Linked DNA regions of Homo sapiens: all the other regions are reported to be linked to region 1. Evidence: microRNA targets listed by miRTarBase, many of them from high-throughput screens and not tested one by one. Region 1 holds a microRNA gene; each other region holds the end of a gene's coding sequence. Distances are from middle to middle.

Region 1 (3,000 bases):
TTAGTTCTCTAAAAACTTTCAGAAACAAAGCCAACAAAGTACACTCAATTTACACCACAATTAAAAGAATACCATCCCTCCCAGATGAGAAAGAATCAGCATAAGAACTCTGGCAATTCAAAAAGCCACACTGCCCCCTTACCTCCAAATGAGCCCACTAGCTCCCCAGAAATGTTTCCTAACCAGTCTGAATTATCTGAAATGACAGACATAGAATTCAAAATATGGATGGCAAAGAAGCTCATTGAGATCAAGAAGAAAGTTGAAACTCAATCCAAGGAAGCCAAGCAATCCAGTAAAATGATTCAAGGGCTGAAAGGTGAAATTCTCACTTAAAGAGAGACAAAAACTTAATTTCTTGAGCTGAAAAATTCACTACAAAAATTACATAATATAATTGGAAGTATTAACAGCAGAATAGACCAAGCTGAGGAAAGAATCTGAGAGCTCAAAGAGCAATTCTTTCAATTAACACAGTCAGACAAAAATACAGAAAAGAGAATTGAGAAAGATGAAGAGCAGAGAGTGGGCCGAGACCTCCAATTAGAAGTAGCTATGGTGCATGGCACTCATAAAGAGGAAGAAAAGCAGTGAGTAAATACAGCACCTTCAACTGAAATATCCAGGTTTTCGCACTGGGACTGATCAGGGAAATAACCAATCCACAGAAAACAGAGAAAAGTAGGGCAGGATGATAGCCCACCTGGAAGTGACGCAAAGCCAAGGGAACCCCCACCCCAGCCAAGGAAGTGGTAAGTGAATGTGCCACCCTGGGAAACCACATTTCTCCCATGGATCTTTGCAACCCTCAGATCAGGAGATCCCCTCATAAACCCACTCCACCAGGACCTTGGGTCAGATACACAGAGCTGTGTGGAGTCTCAGCAGGGCAGCCACTCAGGTATGCACAGAGACCCAGGAGATTTACATACCCCAGCCACAGGATCCCTGGCAAAGGTGACTACAACTCAGTCAAGGCGGGAGGTCCATACATACCCCTAGGAAGGGGGCCGAATCCAGGGAGCTGAACAGCGTCCATCTGTGGGCCCCATTTCCAAGGCACCTCACAAAATAAGACCCACTGGCTTGGAACTTCAGCCAGCCACCAGCAACAGGGTAGTGCCTGCCTGAGATGGAATGGAGCTGCCAGGGAAAGGGGTGGGCTGTCACCTTTGTTATTTGGACAACTCAGCTGTTCAAGTCTGTGGGCTTTGGAGAGTCCAAACAGTCTGGACAAGTAAGGGACCCCCAGCACAGCACAGCACAGCTGCTCTATGAAAATGTGGCCAGACTACTTCTTTAAGTGGGACCCCAATCCATTCCACCCCACTGGGCAGGACTTCCCAATAGGGACCTCCAGCCACCCCTGCCCATATTCTAGGAAAGAACTCTGATCTCTCCCTTGGCTGGAGTGCCCAGTGGGGAGGGATGAGCTGCCAATGTTGCTTTGAGCCCATTCCAGCCTGTAGGCTTTGCAGAATCCAAGCCAATACAGGCAGAGATGGATCCCCAGCAACGCATGGCTGTTTTGTCAAGGTGTGGCCAGACTGCTTCTTTAAATAGAACCCCAATCCATTCCTCCTTGCTGGGCAGGTCCTCCCAACCAGTGCTTCCAACCACCCTCACCCATGTTCTATGGCTGACAAAGTTCTAATTTCTCCCTGTGATGGAGTGCCCAGGGGGCCAGGTGGGCTGCCACCTGTGCTGTTTGGGCATCTCACCCAGTCCAACCTGTGGGCCTTGGAAAGTGCAAAACTATATGGGGGTGAAGGGAAGCCAAACACAGCACAGCTGCTCTACAAAAACGCAGGAAGGCTGCTTCTTTAAGGAGGTCCCTGATCCCATTCCTCCTGACTAGGTGAGACCTCCAAAACAGGGTTTCCAGCCACATCCTATGGGTGCATTCAGGCTGGCAACAGGTCAGTACTTCTCTGGGACAGAGCTCTGAGAGGAAGGGGCAGGCTGCCATCTTTGCTGTTTTGCAGCCTTCACCGGTAATACCTACAGGTACTGAAAAAACTGAGGTGACTAGGGTCTGAAGCAGCCGCCCAGCAAATCATAGCAGCCCTACAGAAAAGTGGTCAGACTGTTCAAAGAAAAAACGAGCAAAACAACAAGAACAACAACAACAAAAACCCATCCAAAGGTCAACAACCTCAAAGATCAAAGGTAGATAAGCCAACAAAGATGAGAAAGAATCAGCACAAAAACACAGAAAACTCAAAAATCCAGTGTGCTCCCTTTCCTCTAAATGACCACAACACCTCTCCAGCAGGGATTTAGAACTGGACTGAGGCTGAGATGGCTGAGATGATAGAAATAGGATTCCAAATGTGGATCTAAAAAATGAACTTCACTGAGCTAAAGGAGCACTTTGCAACTCAATGCAAGGAAGCTAAGAATCATGATAAAACAATGCAGGAGCTGACAGCCAAAATAGCCAGTATAGAGAGGAATATAACCAACCTGATAGAGCTGAAAAAAACACAACAAGAACTTCACGATGCAATCACAAGTATTAATAGCAGAATAGGCCAAGCAGAAGAAAGAATCTCAGAGCTTGAAGAATGTCATTCTGAAATAACACAGGCAGACAAAAATAGAGAAAAACAATGAAAAGGAATAAACAAAACCTCCAAGAAATATGGGATTATGTAAAGAGACTGAATCTATGACTGATTGGGGTACCTGAAAAAGATGAGGAGAATGGGACCATTTTGGATAACATAATTCAGGATATCATCCAGGAGAACTTCCCTGACCTACCTACAGAAGCCAACATTCAAATTCAGAAAATGCAGAGAACCCCAGTAAGATACTTACTCCACAAGAAGATCGTCCCCAAAACATGTAATCATCAGATCCTCCAAGGTCAAAATGAAATAAAAAATGTCAAAGGCCACTGGAAAGAAAGGCGAGGCCACCTACAAAGGGAAGCCCATTGGACTAACAGTGGACCTCTCAGCAGAAACCATGCAAGCCAGAAGAGATTGGGGGACA
Region 2 (5,126 bases), not on the chromosome of region 1:
TTGTATTATCAGAAGAACATGTCTACAATGTTATCTTACATATTAATATCTTGGACAGATACTTCTTTTATCTTCCCAGTTAAAAGGAAAGGCACTAAGTATGCTTTAAGCACCTTCAGAGATGCAAAAGATCTTTCCAAACAGGTAGATTCTTGGTTTGTGGCTTTTCTGTAGTAATGCTCAACATTTACTCTGGCGGCTATCATAAGGAGGAGGCTAAAAGTTATTTTCGATTTTAGTATCCAAACAGGCCAGTTACTATTCCTTTGTCCTGTATCCTTCTGTGGGTAAAACACAAGCTAGAATTTGGTTTATCTTCCCTTTCTATGCTGGAGCTTTTTAGGAGAACTAATGCTCTCAGAATAAGTGAACCCCTGCTCAAGAAACAGAGTTACCTATTAATGTGTCTCCTTATGAAAAAGGAAAAACCTTTGCAATTGTCCTACTGCTGTAAAGGATGAAACCAAATGTCTTTTTGTTCTTCATCCAATTAGCTTAAAAAATTAGCCTAGAACAAAGTGGTAGAAATTTAGAAAGCATATTTCAGCAAGGACTATGGATTTATAAAGAAATGTGGATTCAGATAAAATATACTTCAGAGAGAAAATTAGGATAAACATTTTATGACACAAGAGGAACTAGAAAAAGCACAGGAATTTAAGGAAGAACATATTTTAATGGTTGAAACCTGTCTTTATGAGGCGATTATGACAGCAAAAAATATTATAATGAATAACAATGCATAGTCTACGCTTTGTAATATTTCATACAATAATTCCTTTATCATTTACATCTCTTAATGCTAGAAAAGCATTCTGAAGATGCCAAGCGTAAGTTGCAACTGAGTAAAAAAAAAAAAGCAAAATTTACTCAATTTCCAGAAGAGGTGCAGAACAGAGAATGAAGGTCCTTAAAATATAAACCGCTAGTGTGCTAAAATGATGTCCATTTGCAGGATCAGTGACAAAATATTTAAGCCCATAAAGAAAAGAGTTATACCTGCTGTATGAAGGTATTCATAGAGAAATATGAGTCATAAGCCAATTATTTATAAATGTCTTTCAAAATATTTGGTGCACATGAAATGCAGTATACTGATGGTCCTGGAGACTGTTGCAGTTGAATAGGGCAGCTACTGGGATGATGGTGTTTCCCCCGGATGAGGATGACAGGAATGCAGGGCCTAGGATTTGTTGAGCATGTACACTCTTCTTCTGAATTGGCCACCCAGAAACCAATTATTGAATCAGAACAACACAAATTGGTTTGTGCTTGAGCCAGGTCTGTAGAAACGGAAATCAATTCAGTTGTGGAAATGATGAATTTTAAAAGCTGCTGGGTTTTTTTTTGTGCAAGGTAGAGATTTTCATAACATCTCAATAATCCTTTTGAAATGTGCAGTTGCTTAGTGCAAAAAAAGAAATAGTGCCACCATTTCTTCAACTAAAAGATAAGGTGTGCTTTGTAAAAGTAAAGCATATCCAATTTTCATCCTGTTGGTCGGTATTACCAAGGGTCATGATGTAGCTGGCGCACAAATGTGAAGAATCATTTACTACCTGTAGAGTGGCAGTATATCTTAGATATCATACTTTTTATTAATCAGTTCAGTTTCTCTAGCTGCAGAGAGAAGTTCTCTAACGGACTTCACCAATAGGGCAAAACACATTCCCATTCCAGAAAGGCACATAAGAAGGGTGCTTCAAGACAAGCACACACCAGGCAAGGAACGGTAGCTGAAGTGCATCTGCCCTGGACCAGCATTTCCACACCCTTCAGACCAAGTTCCATTTAAAGGTGTATGTACTACTTTCAAAAGGACCATTGGGTTATTTTCTTGTGACCCCCTGAGTAAAACCACACATTAAAGCTCCACCGTCTTACACTTTGCTACTTCTTACATACCTGTCTTCTTACTTGTTCCTATTGTTTACAAATCTGCCCAAAGATATAATTTTTATGATATTAAGAGCTGAATTTTGCTTAAGAAAATCTACATATCTTTTGTGATTCTTCTAAATCTAGTAAATCAAGTAATCAACAGTTTATTCTCTGCTTGTAAAAAAGGGTAGTAATTTTTCCACATAAAAATCAAATATATAAGCAAAACTAATATATTTGTTGACAAAGTTGCTCCAGCAAGCCTTGAATTTTTCATTATAATTTAGCTATAAATAGACCCAAGGAATCTGACATCCAAGGATCATTAAGCAATCATAAAAATGTATCACATAATTTTAATTCTGAATACTTACTTACAAAACATGTTTATAACTTCTGCATTTCCTTTTATTAAGCATGCTTTCCCATTAGGACAAGTTTTTTTGTTATTTTGTTTTACTTTTCAGCGGATGATCTATTACATAGTCATACAAATACCTTTGTTTAGTCATAATTTGTCAGTAGGCTACTGACAGGTATTGAAGGTAATATTTAACTTTTTATAATGTGAACATTTTAGGCTAGCATTTTGAAGCCATTCTGTCCAAATAGTTTGGATGCAGAATTATTGTCTTTTTGGTGACTAAATAGTGGTAGAAGTGATTAGAACCAAAAATTAGGTTGCCTTTTCAAACACAAGCTCTCCATCTCACAAAAGGAAATTATTGGTCCCCAAATTCCACTTTCACTGATTTATGCTTTGGTCACAAACAATTAAAATGTATGATTTCATGGAACATCTCTAGAAGATAGAATGGATGCTGATGAATCCAGGCTATTGGAAAATCATGAAATTGTATTAGGGATCATGTGAGATAAAGAATCTTTCTTTAGCATGGTACTGGCACACAGTAAACAACTAAATAAGTTATTATAACACACATACTGCTTTTATTTACATTGCCTTGAGGTGGGCTGAAGAAAAATAGGGAGAAAGTAAAAAATTCTCCCCCACAGGCAACACCAATGTTACCTGTGATAACTAAAAAAAGGTTTTCCTTTAGGAAAGGTCAGGCATTCATTCATCTTTAAGAGTGCATGGACACTAATATCTAAAGCATAGAGGCCTAAACTCTTGTACACCACTCTGAGTACTTGGTTCTACTATGTTGAACACTATTTTCCCCTATTTCCTGATACTATTATATTCAAATTTTTGTTCAGGACTTTTCTGGATTTGGAAAATGCACGGCCAGCATGTCTACATGCAGCAATCCTGGTCTTATGAAACCATTTCCTAGTCAATTATTTTTAAGTATCAGATAATATATAACTAGCTATATAATTGAGAAATGAACCAGTCAATTTTGGACAACTTTGGCACAAGTGCTTTATTTGTGCTATTGTTACAATGGTCACAAGTACATCTTTTATCTCATTTCTCCCAGAATTAAAGATATACTTTAGTGATCTGCGTGATAATATTTATAGGTTTATTTACCTATATTTAAAAATGATCAGTGGCTAGACATGTCTAGAAATATATATGGCCTAATATGTAACTTCTCTTTGATAAAGTGAAAACAAGTAATATATAAGCTAATATTATTGAAGCAATATTTTTTGGTACATACTTACTTATTTTATTGTTTTCGATCTGCATGCACAATATGAAATCATAAAAGCAACAAACATCACCACACCAACACTGAGTAAGATCATTTCTATCAGGCCAAGGAGGTTTATTTTTCCAGTTACTTGACTTCTGAACATGTTTGCCTTCTCATCACCAATGGTCCCAGTCTGTAATCAAGTTAATAATCAACATTATTTGGGTACGTTAGTAAAACAAAATAAACCCTTCAATTGCCTATCACCCTTTTTTCTAACACCTCTATTGGTGTTAGTCATCAGTATCTATAAGGCAAGTTAATGGAATTCCTTTTGCAAGTCAAGAAAGGCAATTAAGTGCCAGATAGAGTACGGTACTCTTCAATGTACTAGGATTCATTTGCTCTTCAGAACTATCAAAGGGTCAACAGTTTCATTTGCTCCAAAGACTTATTCAATGTTTTTCCTATTTTTATAGCTATCAATGCATGGATTTATAGTAAAAATACCTTGTCAGGCAATAGAAGACAAATGTTACAACAAGAAAATGTGTTTAATAGATGCATTTTTGAAGAAAATCTTAAATGATAGGAAATGTTTTTGTTCAATTGGATCATCTCAAATAGGTTAAATAAATGTATACTCATCCATATGGGTAATGGAAATACATATAGCTTTAAATACTATACATTCTTTTGAAACATCAAGAGCTTGTTTATATACAAAGAAGGTTGTTTTTAATGACTAACAGCTGCAAATACAAACCTCATTAAGCCAAAGAATAGGCACAATATAGTTCCTCTTCAGATTCTTTAATACTCTGTAATATACGTTGAAAATAATTATGAACATATAAACTAATATTTATATATAACAAACTTTAAAATAAATGTTCATAAATTAGTTGCTGTTGCTAATTTGATTTTGTTCCTGTAATGACTCATTTAAATTTTAATATAGTTGTTTTTGACTTCCTTTGCTCTTATATGTCTTCTAATCACATTGATTTTTTTTCACAAGTGTGGATTTTTCCTTTCAATAAATTCTCGGGGAACTGAAATATGAATTCCAAAAATTAATTATTGTCATAGAAATATTTGGGCAGCTAACAAAATAAGAGATGCTATCAAATGCTCAAATAAAACCATAAAACCATTCCAAAATCTGTGAAATTAGTCATAAGCATTTAATAATGATTGGTGACATTAAGCTAAAGATAAGTTGATATCAGATGTTATTTCCACTTACTTACATAGATTTACTCATGTTCTTACAAGAAGATACTACGATACTACAGATCATATCAAAATAACCATTTTCAAGAGACTCACTGAATTTTTTCTGATGGCTTGACCAATAGGTTGACCTGCAGCCGTTTTGCAAATTGTAAAGTGAATCCAGTTATCTAAAAAGAGAACAACTAAATAATTACCAACTTTTAAAAACATTATTTTATACTATTCAAAACTTATTTTTCTTACAGCAGAAGAGAAGGTAGTAACTTAAGGTTAAACAGGACTAATTGAAACTTTTAAAACTGCATATATAGTTATAGTTATATACACATGCATCCATATAGATACACACAATTTATTTGCCCAATCGAATGTCAAGGTTTTAGTTAGTTAGATTTG
Region 3 (3,445 bases), not on the chromosome of region 1:
ACGTATGTCGCAGCAGCATTTCACCCCTGAAGTCTCTAAACTCTGAGCCTGAAAAGATTTGTATTTAATACACATAACATTTTTTAGTTCATTCTGCCTTTCCTATTTGTTCCAGTTTTTGCTTGGTTTTAGTTTGGAGGGGAACTTAAGTACACAGATCCTTATCTCTCCCCATCCCCTAGCCTCACAAAACACAGTTGAGAGTCTTTTAAGTACCTGAGCTCTCGAAGCTACCCAGAACTGAACTAGACTCCCCTACCTTAGACTGGTACCCTCAAACACAGGACTGAAGCTTAATTGGGAATTTGGCTTTATGGAGAAAAGAATCTTTTTCAAAGTTTGTGTCGGAAGGGGAGGGTGAGGTTTGCCCACTGTCTCTGCAGGAAGGCTCCGGCTTAATCTAGGAAGTAGATTCCAGCTGCACGATGAGGAACACATTAGCTTTTGGGATCAAACCAGGAATATGAATCTGTAATTATTAAGCTCATTGCCAACCCACAAGATATGTTTCTGAAAACCTGTAGTTTCTTAATTTAAGTCCATCCCCTTCATTAACGCTACAGTTGTGACTCACACTGATCCCAAACTTTTAAGTGCTAAATATTAACATTTAGCATTAACTGTCTTGTCAAGCGAAAGGCCTTCTCTACAACCTAGTCCATCTCACTTCTGGTGCTACCTGAGTTGGACAGAATTCTAGCTCATGGTTGCTAGGAAAGCTAGGCCTCTGATCATAGAAGCAGATAGCTTCAGTCCCAGTCTAGGCCTAGATAAATGACTCTTATTACCACAACCCTTATTATTTTCCAATTTCCTTTCTCACATACTGTACACAGGTAGTATTTTCAATGTGAATCCAAAGCTTGTCTGGTTCTCTGAAAATAATTTTTTCCCCTTTAGGTTCTTTACATTGTGATAATGCTGTATTTAAAGAGAATATTTAAATGTAATATTAAAGAAATATTCAAAAGAATGATGTGTTACTCTTTGTCTCGGCAGGCCACAGTTCAGTTACTTGTTAGAAAAAGGATGCTTCTCTAGCTTCGTTATAAAACTAATTAGGTCAGTTAGGAATTAATGTTAACAATAGAAACATTTTGTGATGGAAAAATAGAATATTCTCTTTGGAGTACCAAGAGCTGGACTTGGTTCATATGCCCTTGTGTACCTGTTCAGCTGAAGCAGGCCTTGCTCCTGCTCTGTTGGAGCTTAGCCCTGTCCCTACTCTGGGCTCCCATTTTCTCATTCCATTAACTTTTTTTTTTTTTTTTTTTTTGAGACAGAATCTCATTCTGTCGCCCAGACTGGAGTGCAGTGTCGTAATCTCGGCTCACTGCAAGCTCCGCCTCCCGGGTTCACGCCATTCTCCTGCCTCAGCCTCCTGAGTAGCTGGGACTACAGGCGCCCACCACCACGCCTGGCTAATTTTTTGCTATTTTAGTTGAGACGGGGTTTCACCGTGTTAGCCAGGATGGTCTTGATCTCCTGACCTTGTGATCCGCTCGCCTCAGCCTCCCAAAGTGCTGGGATTACAGGCGTGAGCCGCCGCGCCCGGCCTCATTCCATTAACTTTATGAAATTCTCTTTTCCTTGTTATCACCTTAAAGTGTCCAGCAAGGAGATCAACTTCAAATCAGTTTCTGCAAAACTTCCATCCCATCAGAAGGTTCTATGCCAACCAATTAAATCCCCATTTGTTAGATTATGTCAGTCTTGTAAAAGGAGACAGCAAAATGATTAGAGTATGCATAAGTCATTTCCATCAACAGGTTTCAAGCAGTCTTTACTTGGGTTTAAAAACAGTGCTTCATGCATTTACAATAAGTTATTACAGAACTCTAAGTCACTGATGCACACACAAAAGCTAAACCCAACTTACTAACTATGCAGACCTCTCCTGATCTCCCCAGGCTGGGCAGTAATTAGTACCTTACAGGTGTGATCCATGGCCCAGAGAAGGCAGCCACTGTCAGTTACAGTTGGACTGCTGCATCACAGTGGAGGCAGCAGAGTTGAAGATCCACAGAGGGCTGTAATACAGCCCAGAAAAGACAATGGAGAGTGAAGGCTAGAAACATTGAGGAAGGGGTCAAGAAGCACTTGTACTTCCTGTTATCTTTTCCAATAGAATATTCCTGCAAGTTACCCATCAGAAAAAGGTGTTCAGAGGGTTTGAAAAAGAAGTGGTTAGCCCATGCCAGTGAAGGTGACAAAAAACAAAACAACTTGATTTTTGGTCATATCAGAAAGGATGGAGGGAAACACCCAAGTACATGCACGGACACATGTGCTCCAGCCAAAGGAGTGCTGTTTTCACCAGCCACAAATTTTCTAACAGCAACAACAAAAACCCACAGATGTAAGTAACATGGAAGTGGATCAGTCCTAAGCCAAATAAGGATTCCCACCTGGGGCAAAAGCTGACTTCCTAGGACATGAACTGAACACATCACAGTAAAAGCCCAGTAGAGGCTGCTGCCAGTTCCAGCTATTAGTAATTATGAGGGGGACAGGATGACACCTCACACGGACCACCCCTAGCAAGAGGGTTTGTTTCAGTTCTAGCTGTGAGAGGAATGTCTGCAGTTCCCACATGTGTGCCATGCTGTGAAGCCCATGGCCCCTGCTCCTCTCTCTGCCTCCCACACACTTAACAGTACACACAGACTTTGCTGGCAAGTGCTGTTTGTTCCTGCACTGCTATACTATACGACTGCAGGACAATGCCATCCGCTCCATGGTTCATTCAGCGCCTTGTCCCAAGGTAGTTGGTGGAGAGCAGGACCACGTTGTGCAGCAAGAGAGACAGCTCAGCTTCTGAAAACACAGTGTTAGTGGTTTGGCTTGGGAACACTGCCTTATAACTGCCTTGTTATATATGGCTTAAGCCTGGAGGCAGGAAGCCAAGTGCAGGGAGGGGTGGAATGAAGAAGCTGTTTTTCTCAAAGTTCCCCTTCTTTGTTTCAGCCCCTGTATGCATGCCTTCCTTTCCTTCTACTATATATTCGTATCAACTCATCCTCTATTTCTCATGTGATTGCAGTAGAAAATTCAGAGATGGTAATGGTACTAAACACCAGTCGCGTTGGGATTCTTCTGGTAGAAGTTGGTGCTCTAGGGACATTTCTCAGCTTCAAGATTAGTAGGCCTACCCTAACATCCAAAGGCCCACAAAACATCAAGACCTAGCCTAAACAGGGGGCAAACAAGCCTAATACATACCCTCAGATGCTTTGTGTTTGGTCAGCAGACTGTTTTTTTTCTGAGTTTGAATGCCTTTAGACCAGTACTTCTCAACGGGGACAATCCTGCCTCTCTCCTCCCCACCCCTAGGACATTTGGCAATGTCTAGAGACATTTTTGGTTGAGACAACTGTGGGTGAAGGGGTGCTACTGGCATCTAGTGGGTAGAGGCTAGGGATACTGCTATAATAAATACCTATAA
Region 4 (5,126 bases), not on the chromosome of region 1:
GCCTGCCTGGGCAACAGAGGGAGACTCTGCCTCAAGAAAAAAAAAGAAAAAGAAACCACTCCTGTGATGCAGTCACCTCCCAGCAGCCCCACCTCCAGCATTAGAGATTGCATTTCAACATGAGATTTGGGCGGGGACACAGACCCAAACTATGTCACCCGCTTTCCCTACCTTCATTCTCATTCCCACGAGGAACTCCCAGACCTAGCGGTTGTTCCTTTCAGTAGCTTCTCTCTTTGCATGGCTTCTTTTGGTTGTTTCTTCATATTTCTTTTTCTTTCTTTTTTTTTTCGAGACAGAGTCTCTGTCACCCAGGCTGGAGTGCAGTGGCACGATCTTGGCTCACTGCAACGTCCGCCTCCTGGATTCGAGTGATTCTCCTGCCTCAGCCTCCCGAGTAGCTGGGATTACAGGTGTTTGTCACTACGCCTGGCTAATTTTTGTATTTTTACTAGAGACGGGGTTTCTTTCTCATTATGTTGGCCAGGCTGGTCTCGAAGTCCTAACCTCAGGCGATCCACCGGCCTCGGCCTCCCAGAGTTGTCGGATTAAGGCGTGAGCCACCACGCCCGGCCGTTTCTTCATATTTCTACATGATAAGTATCCACAGCTATCTTATGATTGACCAAATTTGATTCATGCACCAGCTTTCTGTTGTGGGACAGATGAGGATATACCCGTTTTTCTTTATCCCCCACACTGTTTAGATCAGAACTTTGCACATGGTATTTGCAACTCAAATGTTGTTGAGGGACTGCGTCTTTGCAGGCAGATCTGAGCTCACAGTGGAACTGACCACTGAGTTCCCAGCCGCACCAGGCCGAGGGTCTGCTCATGAAGGTCGGAGCCCCGCCCCCAGTGTGGTTGCCTGCAGAGCCCGGTGCTCAGCCCTGATGTCTGGGAGCTGAGGCATTGCTGTGGTTTGCTTTTATTTTGGAGCCTTGTTCTTCCAGAGTGTCAAGGCAGCCCCCTGCCCTGGAGCCTCGTGGAGGGTCATGATTCATGACCTACTCAGGTTGGACGTGAGATGCCCAGAAAGGTCAGCTCCCAGTTTCAAGGGATGGAAGATACCAGGCAAGGCCTGCAGTGAAGCCCCCACACCTGGCATTGGCAGCTCCCCTTTCTGCACCCCTCCCCACATGTCCCAGCCTGGCTCATTCTCCTCATTTTGCTTTTGTGTAGAGTCCTGCTTCCTGTTCGCCCTCACGCGCCAGAAGTTGCCACCCTTTTGCCAGCAGGGGTACCTGAGGATGCAGGGACTCGTGAGTACCGAGAGCCTTTGGCAGCACAGAGTGGAGAGCAGGCTCCTGCGGGACTATGCCCCCACAGGCAGGCGCCTGGAGGACAGCAGCCAGCAGCTTGGCGACCAAGAGCCACTAGGTTCCCCCCTGGCTCCAGGGCCTCTGGCTCAGTCCGTCGATAGCAACAAAGAGGAGCTCTGACTGTCCCTTCCTAAGCTGTGGGCACAGTGGCCAGGCCTCCCCACCTAGGCCCATGGTCAGTCCCTCTTTCCCCGCAACCTCACACTCCCGCCAATGCGTGATTGCCAAAGACCACTCAGATCATGGCAGTGTCTGCAGCAAAGCCACCAGATGGCACGTGAGGGCTGAAAGTCGGGGATGCGGTGGTCTCCTCCCTCCTGTCAGGGGGCAGAAGGGCATCCTCTGCCAGGTGGGAGCTGCCTTCCCCAGCCCAGTTTGTCTGCAATGGAGCTGTCGCTGAGCCCCAGGCCAGCCCAGTTCTGCCCCGTCTCAAGTGCTCCTCTTCCTTCCAAGCCCCTCCTCAGATGGGCCTGCATCCCGCCTGTGGAGTGCTTCACAGGGGAAACCCATCCGCATCTTAAGAGTTTGTGGCAAGCGCTTTAAAACAAAAGCTCTGATATCCTCAACAACCACAATGGGCAGGTGGGATTGTTGCCCCAGATGACTGCTGAAGACACCAGCTGTGGGATGTCAAGTAATTCCAGGGACCCCCAGCTGGGAGTCCCCGTCTGTGTCACTTGCCACACACTGCCTCAACCTCCCCGCCCCATTTTCAGCAGGGTTTGGGCTTAGCTACAGAGCCCAAGAGGGTCAGCCCTGCTTATCATCATAGGCCCAGCAGGCTGATCTCGAGCAGCGATAGGACAGCTCCCTGCAAAGCCATCTTAGCAACTTTCTCACTGAGAAGCAGGATTCAGAGCTGCTCTCCCCAGTTGCACCCCCTGACTCATCTTCCAGCTGGCTCTTCTCTCCCATCCTACTCCCTTCTGTCTCCCTGCCCTCTGCCATCCTGAACCATGCCTTGCTTCTAACCTGCCTGGTCAAGTTTTGTGAAACTTATCCTGCTGTCTCGGGCTGGCACCCATATGTGCTCACCATGTGTAAGGTGACATTTCCAAATGCCTTTGTGTGATAATGATGATGAATTTGGTTCCTAGTCTCTTCTTCATTGCCCTTCCTCACCAGCAATCTGCACTTTCCCATCAGGCGTCTTAGTCTCATTTGTAAGTGCATAAGATAATCACAGTGATTTTTCAAAGCCCAGGATCATAAGTGATTGCTTTTTCACTGGTTCTTACTAACTCTTCATGTATCCACTCAGAATTCCAAGGACAATCCCAGCACTCTGGGAGGCCCAGGCAGGTGGATCACCTGAGGTCAGGAGTTTGAGACCAGCCTGACCAACATGGAGAAACCCTATCTCTACTAAAAATACAAAACTAGCCAGGCGTGGTAGCACATGTCTATAATCCCAGCTACTGGAGAGGCTGAGGCAGGAGAATCACTTAAACCCGGGAGGCAGAGGTTGCAGTGAGCCGAGATTGCGCCATTGCACTCCAGCCTAGGTAACAAGAGGGAAACTCCATCTCAAAAAATAAGTTAATTAAATTAAATTAAAATAAAACATGCGCTGGGTACAGTTGCTTACACCTGTAATCCCAGCACTTTGGGAGGCCAAAGTGGGCCGATCACCTGAGCTCAGGAATTCGAGACCAGCCTGGCCAACATAGCAAAACCTTGTCTCTACTAACGGTAAAAAAAATTAGCTGGGCATGGTGGAGCATGCCTGTCATCCCAGCTACTTGGGAAGCTGAGGCAGGAGAATTGCTTGAACCTGGGAGGTGGAGGTTGCAGTGAGCAGAGACCGAGCCACTGTACTCCAGCCTAGGTGACAAAGCAAGACCCACAGTAAAGCCCCCACACCCCATCTCAAAAAAATAAAAAATAAAAAAGAACAAAGTATGCTACAACAAAAGTGAAAAGAGAAAAAGAATTCCAAGAACCCGGGCTTTCTGGATCCAAAGCTCTTTCATGGGGACGTCCTCTTCCCCTCTTGGCTTGGTCCAGACTTTTTCTTTTTCTTTTTTTTTTTTTTTGCAATGGATTTCGCTCTTGTCACCCAGGCTGGAGTGCAATGGCACGATGTCGGCTCACTGCAACTTCTGCCTCCCGGGTCTAAACAATTCTCTTCCCTCAACCTCCCAAGTAGCTGGGATTACAAGCGCCTGCCACCACGCCCAGCTAATTTTTGTATTTTTAGTAGAGACAGGGTTTCACCACATTGGCCAGGCTGGTCTCGAACTCCTGACCTCAGGTGATCCACCTGTCTTGGCCTCCTAAAGTGTTGGGATTACAGGCATGAGCCACCACGCTCGGCCCAGTCCAGACTTTTTAACTACCTGGCCCCACTGCAGACACAGTTCCCTCTAGTCCTTCCCAGAGTTACAAGAAGAGAACTCCAGTAGCCTTATTCTGTCAGGGACGAATTGTTTACCCCATGATAATGTAGGATATCATAAATTCTTCTTCAAAGGTTTTAGCCTGTAATTTGTTAAGTACATTGAGTTCTGAGATCCTCTCCAAAGAACCAATGTATCAGTATGTTCAGCTCACCTGTTCTTTGTTCTTCATTTTAACTTTTAATTTCCTCATTCTTTATGTCTCCTTGCCCCTAGTTTCAGTAAACAATCCCCTCCTAGCCTCTGTCACCTGCTCTGACCTGAGTCACCTTTAGTCACCTGGTCCGTAACCATCTTTCCTGTCTAAACTTCTCACCCCACCACTCTGGCTTATACCCCTGCTCTCTTTAAAATAGCCAGTCAGAATTAGCTTAGATTGTGCGGTCCAACCCTAGCCCATAGGGGAACAACACAGCAGTAGGGGGTACCTGCATCAGGGATAAGAACCCATTCCCCTCCCTTGTTCCGGTGTGCTCTCGCCATTGCACCATCCATGAGACGCACTCTTGTATAGAAGTAAAATTGCCTTGCTGAGAAAATGTATGTTTGAGTGCTATTTCTTTTGTGGCACTGAAAATTTATTTCTAACAAATTTGGGGTCTCATTTGGGATTCCCATCCTCCTCTGAGGAGGGTCTAGACCTCTCCCATGAGGAGGCACGTCCCACTGCCTTGTTGCGGTGGCCACAGGGGTAAGGAATCGAGACCAACCAGTGTGACGAATAAACCTATACTCTCAGCAAGGCAGAAAGAAACGGGCTGGCGACCTGGGGGAAAGGATCCTCATGTACCACAGCGACCAAGTAAGTGTGCAGAGACCAAGCTAAGAAACATCGCAGGGGTGACAAAGTATTTCCTTGGTGGTCAGGATATTCTGGGGGTTGAAAGTGTGCATGAATGCAAGGAGCCTCCAGCAGGTGGGGCTAAAGGATAGGCGAGACATCTCCAACAGGGGAGATTGAGCTTAACCAGGACCCAAGATGGGAAATGCCCCAAGTAAGGTAAGAGATAAAAAGGAGAAAGCTAGCAACAGTAATATTCCCCCAGGCCTAATGTTAAAATGTTAGAAGGATAATGAAAGGACCAAAAACAAAAGCAGCTGCTGTCCCAGACCCTTCTCCTATCTCTGATGTCCCCTTTCTTACAACCCTGCCTCTTGAGAATCGTCCCAAGAGCCCACTCACTACCGACCTAAGTACCTTTCCCTTAAAGGACTTCAACGTGAGATAGAGCAATGTAAAAAAGATATTCAGAATTTCCCTTTCCCCTCTTCTCGGGGGAAGAAAGAGACATGATCCATAGAGCTGCTATGGGAGCCTAGGAACACGAACACCCTCCTGGCCAAAACGTTCCTACAGCAGATCAAAAAACTCCCACCCAAGACCCCCAGTGGGACAATAACAACG
Region 5 (5,099 bases), 33 Mb from region 1:
AAGCCTAAGCCACTCCCACCTTGCCCAGCTGGATGCTTAGTTTCCTAGTGTAGGAAACTCTTATTGTCTGTTTCCTTCCCTTGGTCTCTACAATTGGCCCATTTCTCATTCTCTCCTTAATCAAGAGCATATAGATACTGCTAACTTCCTTACCAAGGAATTGTGTGTGTGCGCATGTGTGTGTGTGTCTATGTGTGTGTGTGTGTGTGTGTGTGTGTTTCTGTCTTATGTGCATTTTACCCACATATCTTACTTCAGACCTCAGGGCAGTCTGCTTCCTTCTCTCTATACTGATTAATTTGAAGAAAATTTTAGCTACAAAAAATTGGTTCTCCCACATTGTTGTAATTTCCATCCCTAACAAACCTTTAGTGAATTCTCCCTGTTTAAATGTAGAAAGACTGTGTCTTCCGGGGATGATGCAGAATCCACTTAGGGTGCACAGCTGCCGTAGAGCGAAGCCTGGGGCTCCATGAAGCTGGGGAGGAAGGGGGTTGGTGGATCTTAGTAGGCCAGAGATGAAAAAGAGGTGAAATGTCTGCAGCCTATTTCTGATTATCTTCAAACTGATAACTCATAAAAGAATCCCATTTTTGTTGCTGTAATATCAGTCACAAGTTCCTTGTTTTAATTAAAGTTTCATGATTAATGTCAAATCCCTGGTTTCATGCCGGCATTTTCCAACAGTCTTGTCTCTGGGTAGATTAATTTATGACTTAAGTGAAGATAATCAGTGCTTTAGGCAAATAAACTATTCCATCACATCTAAGGATTCTTGCCTGGGCTGACTGTACAAATGGTGCAGTCTTCCGTTAAAAGAGACAGACATGCTATGGAATGCTCATCCAGTCATCGTCATAGCCAGAGGTGATGCTGGACATTATGGTCATTTTCTTTACTGAAAATGTTCCCAACTACATTTTAGGCCATATGGAAAATGGGTGCATTTCACTCCAAACCATATTGATGCAATTGTGAATGTTCAAAAATGCAAATTGCATCATTCCTGCGGGAGATGCAGTGGCTTCCCAGACCTTCTTTTCCTTCCGTGAAAATCTTTGTGAACATTCAGCTGTGTTGTGTGTGTTGATGGAGAGGGTTGAGCAATACATACTGTCGCCAAATGATTTTCTTATTGATAAATGGAGCAATATACTTTGTTTTATTACTCAATTGTCTCTCCCCCTCTTCCATTTTCAAGGCAAAAAAATTAGGGCATGTCTTCCTTTCTGGCACAGAATTGTTTTATTTCATCATAGCCAATCTTATTGTAAATTCATAAAACCATCTAGAGACTTGATAGTAAATTAAAGATGTTTCAAAACAATAATGTTTCCTGGAAATCATGCCCAACTCTGTTGCAGAAGTGGGAAGAATTTGAAATTTCCATGTGACTCTGATTTACTTGCCTATCCTGGGGTGACAGAAAGCAAGTTAAGTAGGTCACCCTGGCCTTTGGTGAAGGTAAATGTATAAGAAAATAGTGCTTACTTTACAGACTTCCGGACTCTCCGTCCAATCTGGATGAGCAGGTATCCCGGAGAGTGTAAGTTGCTGACATACACAACTTGAAAGCCAGAGCTTTAAGGGACTGCCTGTTGCATTTTTTATCATAAAGGAGTCTAGACTTAAATCTTTCATAACCGAACTCATACTGTAATCCATTACATGTACTTCATATTAGCTAGCGCTTCTGGCATTATGGTGGCAGCTGTGTAAAATATTTGTTGTGCTTGTTTAGAATTGAATTGTAATGTTCTAAAGCGAGCAATTATTCCTACCATGGAAGCTGCCAAACCTCTAATACTTCTATACTTTGCCAGTGTGTCTAAATTGCAGGAGATATTGGTACCCTAAGCAGAACAGACACAACCTTCTCAGACACAGGAGGATGACCCTGTTTCTAAATAGCTGCACAGTCTAGTTCTCTCTCCTGTTTACTCGTTGTTAGTTTAGTTGTCTAAGACTATGCGCTTGCTGAGGACAGTCATTTTTGAATTCTCCAGCCCCTATCGCAGTGTCTGGCATGTGATGAGAGAACAGGAATATTTGTTGAAAAGTGAAAATGCATATTCCATCCCATCCTGCCCCCTTTCCTCCCTCTCCCTCCTTCTTCCTACCCTCACACTAACCTTTGGGTTTTGCTTTCTAGGCAAAGCAGGAAAAATGCCAGCTCGGTCTCCCAGGACTCTTGGGAGCAGAACTACTCCCCTGGGGAAGGCTTCCAGAGTGCCAAAGAGAACCCCAGGTACTCCAGCTACCAAGGCTCCAGGAACGGCTACCTGGGAGGACATGGCTTCAACGCCAGGGTCATGCTGGAAACTCAGGAGCTCCTTCGCCAGGAACAGAGGCGGAAGGAGCAGCAGATGAAGAAGCAGCCTCCTTCCGAGGGGCCCAGCAACTATGACTCGTATAAGAAAGTCCAGGACCCCAGTTACGCCCCTCCCAAGGGGCCCTTCCGGCAAGATGTGCCCCCCTCCCCTTCTCAGGTTGCGAGGCTGAACAGACTTCAGACTCCTGAGAAAGGGAGGCCCTTCTATTCCTGAGCACGCAAATAACGGATGCTTCATGTCGCGCAATAAAAGACATTTTCCTATGAAGACTTGTATTTTGGGAGTTTTTTTAAAACCTCGATGGTACTATGGAGTATTTCTGTTGTTGGTATCAGTGCCTTTAAGCGGTGTAGGCAAAGAAATGGAAGGCCTTAATGTCTTTGCCACTATGTCTCAAGTGTCTGTTTCATGGAAGGATTTCCCACCCTGTGACAATCATCTGTTTGAGGTGTTCATATGCTCTGCGCCTCTCCACAGTACCAGGAATCTCGGCCCTACTCATGAGTTGTCCGCGGCTTGGTTGTAACATCCCTGCACCACTTGCAGTGACAAATTCACCTGAAGTGGAGGATGACGTGCGGCCCTGTTTCTCCCTCTAAGTTCTCTTAGCTATGGGATGACATCTTAGTCTCTGGTGGAGGAAAAGTGGGCGACATACACCAAAAATTGGGGCTTTCTGGTACTTCACAGCACAGCCATTTGTCGTACTTTGTCATCACTGTGGTTTTCTCTTTCCTTTCTCAGCTCTTTGTGACGGGAGAGTCGGTCATCCTATTACAGAAGCTAAGCCATAGTCCAACATTGTTTGGTCACCATGGGGGTCCTTTTGTAACTGCCTTATGACTCAACATTACCAATAAAGTGATGATCCTGGTCTGCGTTTATACATACGCTTGTTCGGTCCTGTTCCTGACACGTGGGTTGAGTCACCACAGCTCTGTGTGGGGAACGTGGGAGACAGGAGTGGCTCCTGCCGGGGGAAGCTGGGCCTGCCATTGGCCCTGTGTCTATCATGAGGGGAGAGCTAAGAAAGAAATTCTCCTAGGAAGAGCTCATGGCCCAGTACATCCTAGTAATTATTTTAATTAGTTTTTGTTCTGACAGCTTGTCAGGAAGGGCACAGAATGGGACAGAGATAAACCAGACAGTCATTTTGATCTGCTCTCTACGGTTTTTCAAGTCAGAGGCAATTGATGCTTGTCTAATGCATCCACACACTGCATGTCTGACTGGCGATGCCGCGCTCCTAAGTAGTTCTGCCATGAAACATAAAAGACAAAGGAAAAGCCGTTACACATCACACAGAGAACATTTTCGGGTCCCACAGCGGTGGTGGCAGGAAGCTCACTCTCGCGTCAGTATTAGAGTGTGTGTGTGGGTCTCGGGGATCTCGGTGGCTCCCATCTTCCTTCATTGTTCTGAACATCCTGTATTGTAAACCATGGCTGGGGTGCTAAAGTGCCTGTGAATCCCGATGTGGAAAAAGCTGGAGGTGAAAGCTCAGCATACCATGTATTTACTTTAAAAACAGAAAAAAAGACATGTATGGATATGTCTATTTTTTTTTTATTGGCACATTGTATTTTTGTGTTGACTTGTTTTTAGAAATGATGTGTCCACACACGTACCCGTGTCTCTTCTGCATTTCTGTGTCATGGTTCTGTTTCTTAATCACGTGCGGCGGTGTCTAAGTGGTGTTACCAGTGTACGCGCAGTGACCTTGGATGACAGTGGCTCTTTCTCACAGCCTCCCCTGAGCTGTGAGAAACAGCTTTCTCTGTACATATGCAACTCCTAATAAAAGGCATATTTCTTCCTGTTCTTTTGGTGTCTCTGGTGTTCCTGGGCAGCCTTGCCTAGCTGGGCTTTTTTAAAAGGTCTATTAACAGATGTGATTTTTTTTTTTTTTTTATATTTAGAGAAAGTTGGAAGTTTCCTCACATCTGAGGAAAGTTTGCAGGAAAGGGGGCAGGAGAACCCTGGGGCCCACTCTTGGATGAGGATGGAGAGGGGGGACTCACCTGTCCCTTGGAAAAGATGGTCCCCATTATGACATCATTCTCACTCTTAGTCCATTAAGACAATATACAGTCTTACAGTTGGAAGTCTCAAAGTGGGAAGTTTGCAAACACAGGAACTGGTGGTTGATTGCGTATTTGAGCACCTGAGGAGAGAGGGGAAGGGGAGAGACAAGAACCTTCATGAGTCCACTGCAAGGCCCAGGCTGCCTGAAGAAGCCTGAGGAGTTCTGAATTGAAGGAGCCAGTACAGCTCGAACTAAATGAATGAAAAATTATGCAGAAAGCGACATGATAGTCCCATGACTGCCCTTTGGACCCTTGGAATCATCCTAGCAAGCCAGATGTTTTGATTGAGTCCTGGCCTTGAGTCCTGTGAGCCCAGAGAAAGGTCCAGATTCGAGTCCACTTCCAGTACAAACCTGGTTCTTATTTCCCAAATTACAAAGTAAGGCTTTGCTATTTCTTTAAGAGGGACGCCCACAAATATGCATGCGGCATTTTGAAGGCATAAAGGGTGCTATGTCCCTAGGTATGTCTAGTGCACAAATATAGGAGATTTGGTCCCCACACAAATGGCAGACTTTGCGAGGACCTGTCAAAAATGCCCTCTTATGGAGCACCTAGCATCAGTGGGTTGTCATAGCAACGCTCATCCTGTCACTACATCCAAATTCTATCACCTCGAGATTAGGAATGAGGGGTGCATGGCAAGCCGAGGCAATACCACCTCCTTGGTTCTTTCAAG

What was found. The annotated mature microRNA hsa-miR-7151-3p reads CUACAGGCUGGAAUGGGCUCA and lies in region 1 at 1,449-1,469, opposite strand. An mRNA with a match to its seed (bases 2 to 7 or 8) in the 3' UTR can be bound and repressed. Matches are read on the target gene's strand: a 7mer-m8 pairs with bases 2 to 8, a 7mer-A1 pairs with bases 2 to 7 and ends in A, and an 8mer does both.
Region 2: miRTarBase lists CD36 as a target of hsa-miR-7151-3p. The part of its 3' UTR that is shown has no 7-base or 8-base seed match.
Region 3: the mRNA of LETMD1 is a reported target of hsa-miR-7151-3p. Seed matches in the 3' UTR shown: 7mer-A1 at 1,931-1,937.
Region 4: miRTarBase lists FOXRED2 as a target of hsa-miR-7151-3p. Seed matches in the 3' UTR shown: 7mer-A1 at 2,912-2,918 and 8mer at 3,802-3,809.
Region 5: the mRNA of PARD3 is a reported target of hsa-miR-7151-3p. The part of its 3' UTR that is shown has no 7-base or 8-base seed match.

What each region holds. Positions count from the first base shown.
Region 1 is chr10:67,401,903-67,404,902 of GRCh38, forward strand. MIR7151 (microRNA 7151) reads right to left here and starts at 1,508; the gene lies at 1,449-1,508. All of the region lies in intron 5 of CTNNA3 (catenin alpha 3), which reads right to left.
Region 2 is chr7:80,672,541-80,677,666 of GRCh38, reverse strand. CD36 (CD36 molecule (CD36 blood group)) reads right to left here. Exons shown (of 15, transcript NM_001001548.3): 12 at 4,824-4,897; 13 at 4,258-4,312; 14 at 3,520-3,684; 15 at 1-1,283. The coding sequence ends at 3,520. Among named protein-coding and RNA genes, the nearest start is that of CD36, 36 kb to the right of the region's middle.
Region 3 is chr12:51,058,733-51,062,177 of GRCh38, reverse strand. LETMD1 (LETM1 domain containing 1) reads right to left here. Exons shown (of 9, transcript NM_015416.5): 9 at 1,754-2,817. The coding sequence ends at 2,747. CSRNP2 (cysteine and serine rich nuclear protein 2) reads left to right here. Exons shown (of 5, transcript NM_030809.3): 5 at 1-973. Among named protein-coding and RNA genes, the nearest start is that of LETMD1, 12 kb to the right of the region's middle.
Region 4 is chr22:36,486,324-36,491,449 of GRCh38, reverse strand. It overlaps FOXRED2 (FAD dependent oxidoreductase domain containing 2), which reads left to right. Exons shown (of 9, transcript NM_001102371.2): 9 at 1,183-4,260. The coding sequence ends at 1,442. Among named protein-coding and RNA genes, the nearest start is that of TXN2, 7.2 kb to the right of the region's middle.
Region 5 is chr10:34,108,616-34,113,714 of GRCh38, reverse strand. It overlaps PARD3 (par-3 family cell polarity regulator), which reads left to right. Exons shown (of 25, transcript NM_001184785.2): 25 at 2,153-4,154. The coding sequence ends at 2,546. Among named protein-coding and RNA genes, the nearest start is that of LINC02629, 210 kb to the right of the region's middle.